Linked DNA regions of Homo sapiens: region 1 is linked to region 2. The links come from fine-mapping of genetic effects on plasma protein levels. Region 2 holds a variant in brackets. A gene starts in the other region. All regions are shown on their reverse strands.

What was found. PIP is the posterior inclusion probability: the model's chance that the variant is causal. Protein levels are from antibody-based Olink assays in UK Biobank. Linkage for the fine-mapping came from a reference panel and not from the study's own genotypes, which makes the PIPs less certain.
Region 1: IFIT3 starts here. The variant in region 2 is fine-mapped to the plasma level of the IFIT3 protein (UK Biobank, PIP above 0.99).

Annotation. Positions count from the first base shown.
Region 1 is chr10:89,326,340-89,329,257 of GRCh38, reverse strand. It overlaps IFIT3 (interferon induced protein with tetratricopeptide repeats 3), which reads right to left and starts at 1,261. Exons shown (of 2, transcript NM_001549.6): 1 at 1,180-1,261. The coding sequence starts at 1,184. It also overlaps a transcript of LIPA not described here. RefSeq lists a silencer at 884-933 and an enhancer at 1,254-1,493.
Region 2 is chr2:112,737,633-112,740,550 of GRCh38, reverse strand. It overlaps NT5DC4 (5'-nucleotidase domain containing 4), which reads right to left. Exons shown (of 17, transcript NM_001393655.1): 17 at 1,456-1,638. The coding sequence ends at 1,615. CKAP2L (cytoskeleton associated protein 2 like) reads left to right here. Exons shown (of 9, transcript NM_152515.5): 9 at 1,503-2,918. The coding sequence ends at 1,728. Among named protein-coding and RNA genes, the nearest start is that of NT5DC4, 18 kb to the right of the region's middle. The variant C/T (reference allele first, on the strand shown) is at 1,675.

The DNA of each region.
Region 1 (2,918 bases), not on the chromosome of region 2:
TCTCATCCCCAAACATGACATTGCAGAGCATCTTCAAGTCCTTGGGGCAGAGTAAGGTAGGGAATCCAGTTTTCCTTTTCTGCCCCCCTGAATGGTCGATGGGGTCTTCCCTCCCTGGCAATCACCTCCTCACTCCTTTCCTAGAGATGCTTGGTGGGAAAGGCATCCTTTTCTCTTAGTTCTCCCTAACATGCTATCCCCTGAAGAACTCCAGGAGGTCAATATATAAATTTAAAAATCAAGTTTACTGAGATTATGCTTTATATACAATAAGATGCACCCATTTTCAGTGTATAGTCTGATGAGTTTTGGTAAATGTTTATGCATATGTAGCCACCATCACTACCTCCCTATAGACTATTCCTATGATTCTAAAAAGATTCTTTTGGGAGCCTTCCTACTCAATCCCCACCATCTCCAGGCAACCACTGATCTGCTTCCCACCATTAGAGATTAGACTAGTTTTAGATAATAGATTAGGTCATTACACTTTTGAGGAGAAATTCTTTTTTTGCTGCTGACCAGCATTCACTACATCAATAAAAATAAATGCTAAGCTTTGGGTTTGTTTTTATATAAGAAATGACAAAAATGCCCATTTGTAAGAATTGTTTCTTCCACTTCCCACCTTAAAGTAATGCAACGTTTCAGGGCAAAATTGCCTTCTTCATGAGTGGGTTTGCAGTACTGATTGTATCTTTCACAATATCTGTTGAAAATAAATTCCTCCTTTTAAAATTACAAGAAAAAAAGCCTGTGACTTAATCTTTTCAAACAAAATGACAATAACAGAAAAACCCAAAAGAGTAATTCCCTTAGGTCTACCCTTGAATCAGCCAAGTTTGTGGCTGAGTGAAATACACCGCTCCTGCCAAGCCTTCCTCTCATTGCAGGAAATAGCTGCACACAGGGAGGAAACATGAGCTGATGCATTCCCCACCCTGCCTCCCCCCATGTAGTTCCGTAGGGAACCATTCCAGAAACTTAAGAAGCCTGTGTGTACACCAAAAAAAGCCACAGGGAAAAACCCCTCAAACATCTTACAAATGCTCAGACTGATAAAGACATATTGAATCTATAAACATCAGGACAATTCAGGAATGTGCCTGCACAGTAAGAAACTCAACTTACAATTTGCACTCAAAAACAAGCATGATTATGCATTCTTATTTCACTGACCTCATGACTGCCCTCTGTGTCTCTGCTGTTCCGAAAAGCTGGTGACCAGGCTGATTTGTTCTTCAGAAGTCTTCCTGTCTGCCTCAAGTAAATACTGAAGGAACTATATAAAGGGGTGGGAGAGTAGGGCACGCATCAGCTGATGTTTTCTCCGTTTTTGAGTAATTGCTTTTAGGGGAAGGAAGAGGAAACTGGAAAGTGAAACTAATTTAAAATCGTTGGGAGGAGGAAAATGAAACCTAACGGCTTGAGACCTGCAATGGCTGAGCCAGAGTACGTTATTCAAAACTGTGACTAAAATTTGTTTGAGAGAATGTGGAAGCATTCCTAATGTAAACCAAAAAATTAAATTCTAAGGCCATACTCACCAACCATGTGACTGGACCCCTGCTTTTGGCCAAGGGCATTCCAAAGTTAACCTGAAAACTGATGTGAAGGGGAAGCTGGATATGCCTCATTACATCCTTTTTCCTTTTGGAATTACTAATAGAACACACTCTTTTTTTGTTTTTGTTTTTGTTTTTTTTTGAGACAGAGTCTTACTCTGTTGCCCAGGCTGGAATGCAGTGGCATGATTGCGTCTCACTGCAACCTCTGCCTCCTGGGTTCAAGTGATTCTCTTGCCTCAGCCTCCCGAGTAGCTGGGATTACAGGCACCCACCACCATGCCCGGCTAATATTTGTATTTTTAGTAGAGACGAGGTTTCGCCATGTTGGTCAGGCTGGTCTTGAACTCCTGATAGCAGGTGATCCAACCACCTTGGCCTCCCAAAGTGCTGGGATTACAGGCATGAGCCACTGCACCCAGCCAGAACATGCTCTTTTTAAGTGTATTAAGAAACATTTACAACCTATTCTCTCTGAAGCCTGCTACTTGGAGGCTTCATCTGCATAATAAAACCTTGGTCTCCACGACCCAGACATTCCTTTCTAATGATTGTCTATTGAATTTCTATTGGATGTCTCCAAACATTCCTTTCTATTGATAATAACTCTTTCAACAAATTGTCAATCAGAAAATCTTTGAATCTGCCTATGACTTGGAAGCTGCCCCGCTTCCCTGTTTCCAATTGTCCCACCTTTCTGGACCTAGCCAATGTACACCTTACATGTATTGATTGATGCCTTATGTCTCCCTAAAATGTATAAAACCAAGTTGTGGCCTGGCACATGTTCTCAGGATCTCCTGAGGGCTGTGTCACAGGCCATAGGTCATTCATATTTGGCTTAGAATAAATCTCTTCAAATGTTTTACAGAGTTTGACTTTTTTTGTCAACATTAGGTATCTGACCATCAGTCTAGGGTGGGGCCCAGGAAACAGCATTTTTTAAGCCAATTCTTATTATTTTTAAAAATTTTTTGTGGACACATAGTAGATATATATATTTATGGGGTACATGAGATATTTGATGCGAGCATACAATGAGTAATAATCACATCAGGGTAAATGACTTCAAGCATTTATTCTTTGTATTACAAACAATCCAATTATACTCTTTTAGTTATTTTGAAATGTGCAATAAACTATTGTTGACTATAGTCATCCTCTTGTTCTAACAAACACTAGATCTTATTAATTCTATCTAAGTATATTTTTGTACCCATTAACCATCCCCACTTCCCCCGCTACTACTCTTCCCAGCCTCTAGTAATCATCATTCTAATCTCTATCTCCATAAGTTCAATTGTCTTAATATTTTTAGCTTCCACAAACAAGTGAGAATATGTAAAATTTGTC
Region 2 (2,918 bases):
ACAAAGTCCCAAGCGGGAGCAAACTCTGTAGCTGTGGGAGAAAAGGGACAGTGAATACCCCTCTAAGAACGGAGAGCAGTGGAGTATGTACTAGTCAGAGACTGCTCATAAAGTCAGAAACGTTTTATTTTTTAACAAATATAAATTTAAGGCAGAATCCATAGTAATTTAAGGAGCTATGTCAGGGCGTCAGTGTCATTTTCTAAAATGTGAGTGTAGCACCACTCTTCTCTGATCATGATCTGGAAAGAATTCCAAACAAGGGCACCAAGACAACAGTTCTTTGTTTTAGTTACCTGGAAAGCACAGCCGAATCTCTTCCAATCCTAAACTCTCTGACACACACCATTTTCCCACTACAGTCAGCTCATAAGAGGATGAAAACAGTTCAGTTCATAAGTGGATGAACTACAGTCAGCTCATAAGTAGATGAAAACAGTTAATCCAAAAACTACCTCTTAATGGCTCTAGAATTCACAAAACCACTAATTACATTAGCCTAAGGAAAACTAGCAGGCAAGTCTGCCAAGATTGCACCATTGCACTCCAGCCTGGGCAACAAGAGTGAAACTCCATCTCAAAAAAAAAATGAAAAGGCTGGGCACATGGTGGCTCATGCCTGTAATCCTGTCACTTTGGTAGGCCGAGGCAGGAGGATTACTTGAGCCTAGGAGTTCAAGAGTGGCCTGGGCAGCATAGGGAGACCCCAACTCTATGAAAAATAAAAAATTAGCCAGGCATGCTGGCATACGTTTGTGCTCCCACCAGCTTGAAAGGCTGAGGTGGACAGATGCCTTGATCCTAGGAGGTTGAGGCTGTAGTGAGCTGTGATTGCACCACTGGACTCTAGCCTGGGCAACAGAGTGAGACCCTGTCTTTAAAAAGAAAAAGCTAGAAAGAATCTTGGAATTCATTAATTCAACCAAATTTGGTATTAGGCCCCATTTCCTTAAAACTTGTCATCTGTTTTGAAAGTTTATAGAATAAATGAACACCAACTGCCAAATATTTGACTTCAAATAAAAACCACACTTCATACTTCATTCAATAAATCCTTATGCTTACACCATCCAAGAACAGATGGACACCACCCAGTACATTCTGGAAATCAGGGAAAAGCCTTTTTTTTGAGACTGGGGTCTTGCCATGTTGCCCAGACTGGAGTACAATGGCATAATCATAGCTCACTGCAGCCTTGACCTTCTGGGCTCAAGCAGTCCTCCCACTTCACCCTCCTGAGTAGCTGGGATTACAGGTGTGTGCCACCATGCCCAGCTAATTTTTATATTTTTTGGTAAAGATAGTGTGTTGCTATGTTGCCCAGGCTGGTCTCGAACTCCTAGAAAAAGCCATCTGAAGATGAAAGCTGCTCTAGACATATCTCTTGTATCACCCTATGTTAAAATGTCTTCCCTGTTTTATTATTGAATAAGAAACAAAAAATAATAAAGATAATTTTTTTAAATGATAAGGTTTTTAATGCATCTCTTGCTGTCTCTCAGAATAAATGGGATGCCGGAAGTGCAAGACATGAAATTTATCACTCCTGTACGGCGTTCGTCGAGGATTGAGCGAGCAGTGTCCCGCTACCCAGAAATGCTGCAGGAACACGATTTAGTAGTGGCTTCTCTTGATGAACTGTTAGAAGTGGAAGAAACAAAATGTTTTATATTC[C/T]GTAGAAATGAGGCGCTGCCTGTAACATTGGGGTTTCAAACCCCTGAATCATAATTTCTTGATGCTTTTTTTAAAAAAGGTGTTTCAGAACCAACATAAGACAAGAAATATTCTTGTCCAAGTGACCTGGAAAAAAAGAGAGGCATCATGGATGCAGATTATGGACGCTCAGGACTTAAGTAATTCACTGGGCTTACTCTCAAATTTTCTCTCCCCATGGGAAAATCTTTGCTTTATGTGTTTAAGACCAGTTTGCCAGTTTTACAGTATACATAAATTTCAAACTTTTGAATATTTACCCTACAACTATGATAAATATTTATACTTTATTGATCTACTTTAATCCCAACATAGTTTTTTATATCAGAAGGTTGGTCCCACAATATAATGGGACTTTTCTTTCTGCATCCACCTTAGCAGAGGGCAAGTTCTTTCATCGTGGAAGATCTGAACTTTGACGCTAGCTTGACAGGCTGAATGGACCTTGACAGATGGCCAAGTCAAAACCCCTCATTTTACAGATGAGTTTATGCTAGCTGTGCCTTTGCTCAGAGATCATAAATTTATGTGTGATCTTTGACTTTCATCACAGTATCCTTGTAAATGAGAGAGAATTCTTGTTTTTTCTATGCCAGGTCTCCTCAGATGAAACACAATCCTGAATTGGCATGGTCGTCTAGCTTTTATATTCAAACCTAGTTTTGCATTTGTTACTCAGAAACACTTCAAGTAACAAAAGGGGGGCAGGGGAGAGGGGTGGGGAGTGGACACTTGCTTCTTCAGTTCTTTGCTCAGCTAGGGTATAGCTGGCCTGAGAAGGCAGTGCAAGCCCCAGAGACTGTTGTAGGTTGCTTTTTCTTCCTCCTGGGCAACTATTTGTGGAAAGGTTTTACCTTAGTCATTATGTAAATATAATTGTGTAGAAAAACCTAGTCAACACATTTTAAATTTTAGCTTTCTTAATATTTAAGTATTATCTTAAAACAACATTAAATTTCTATTAGTTCCTGCTTGTTTATCTTATTTATTATAGAAAACCATGATAATGGCTTTGCATAGAGAATTAGGAGTTTGTCTAAGGATATACCAGTTGGCTGTCCTAAGAAACAAGGAGCATTCATTACCAAGGAGAATGGACTTTGATCAAAGGTCTATCAGCCTCATCCAGGAACTAGATTTTTTTAAGGGAAGCAGATCTATTTCTGAAAGTCAGATTTATAATAAAGCTCAAAAAACTGAGCTAT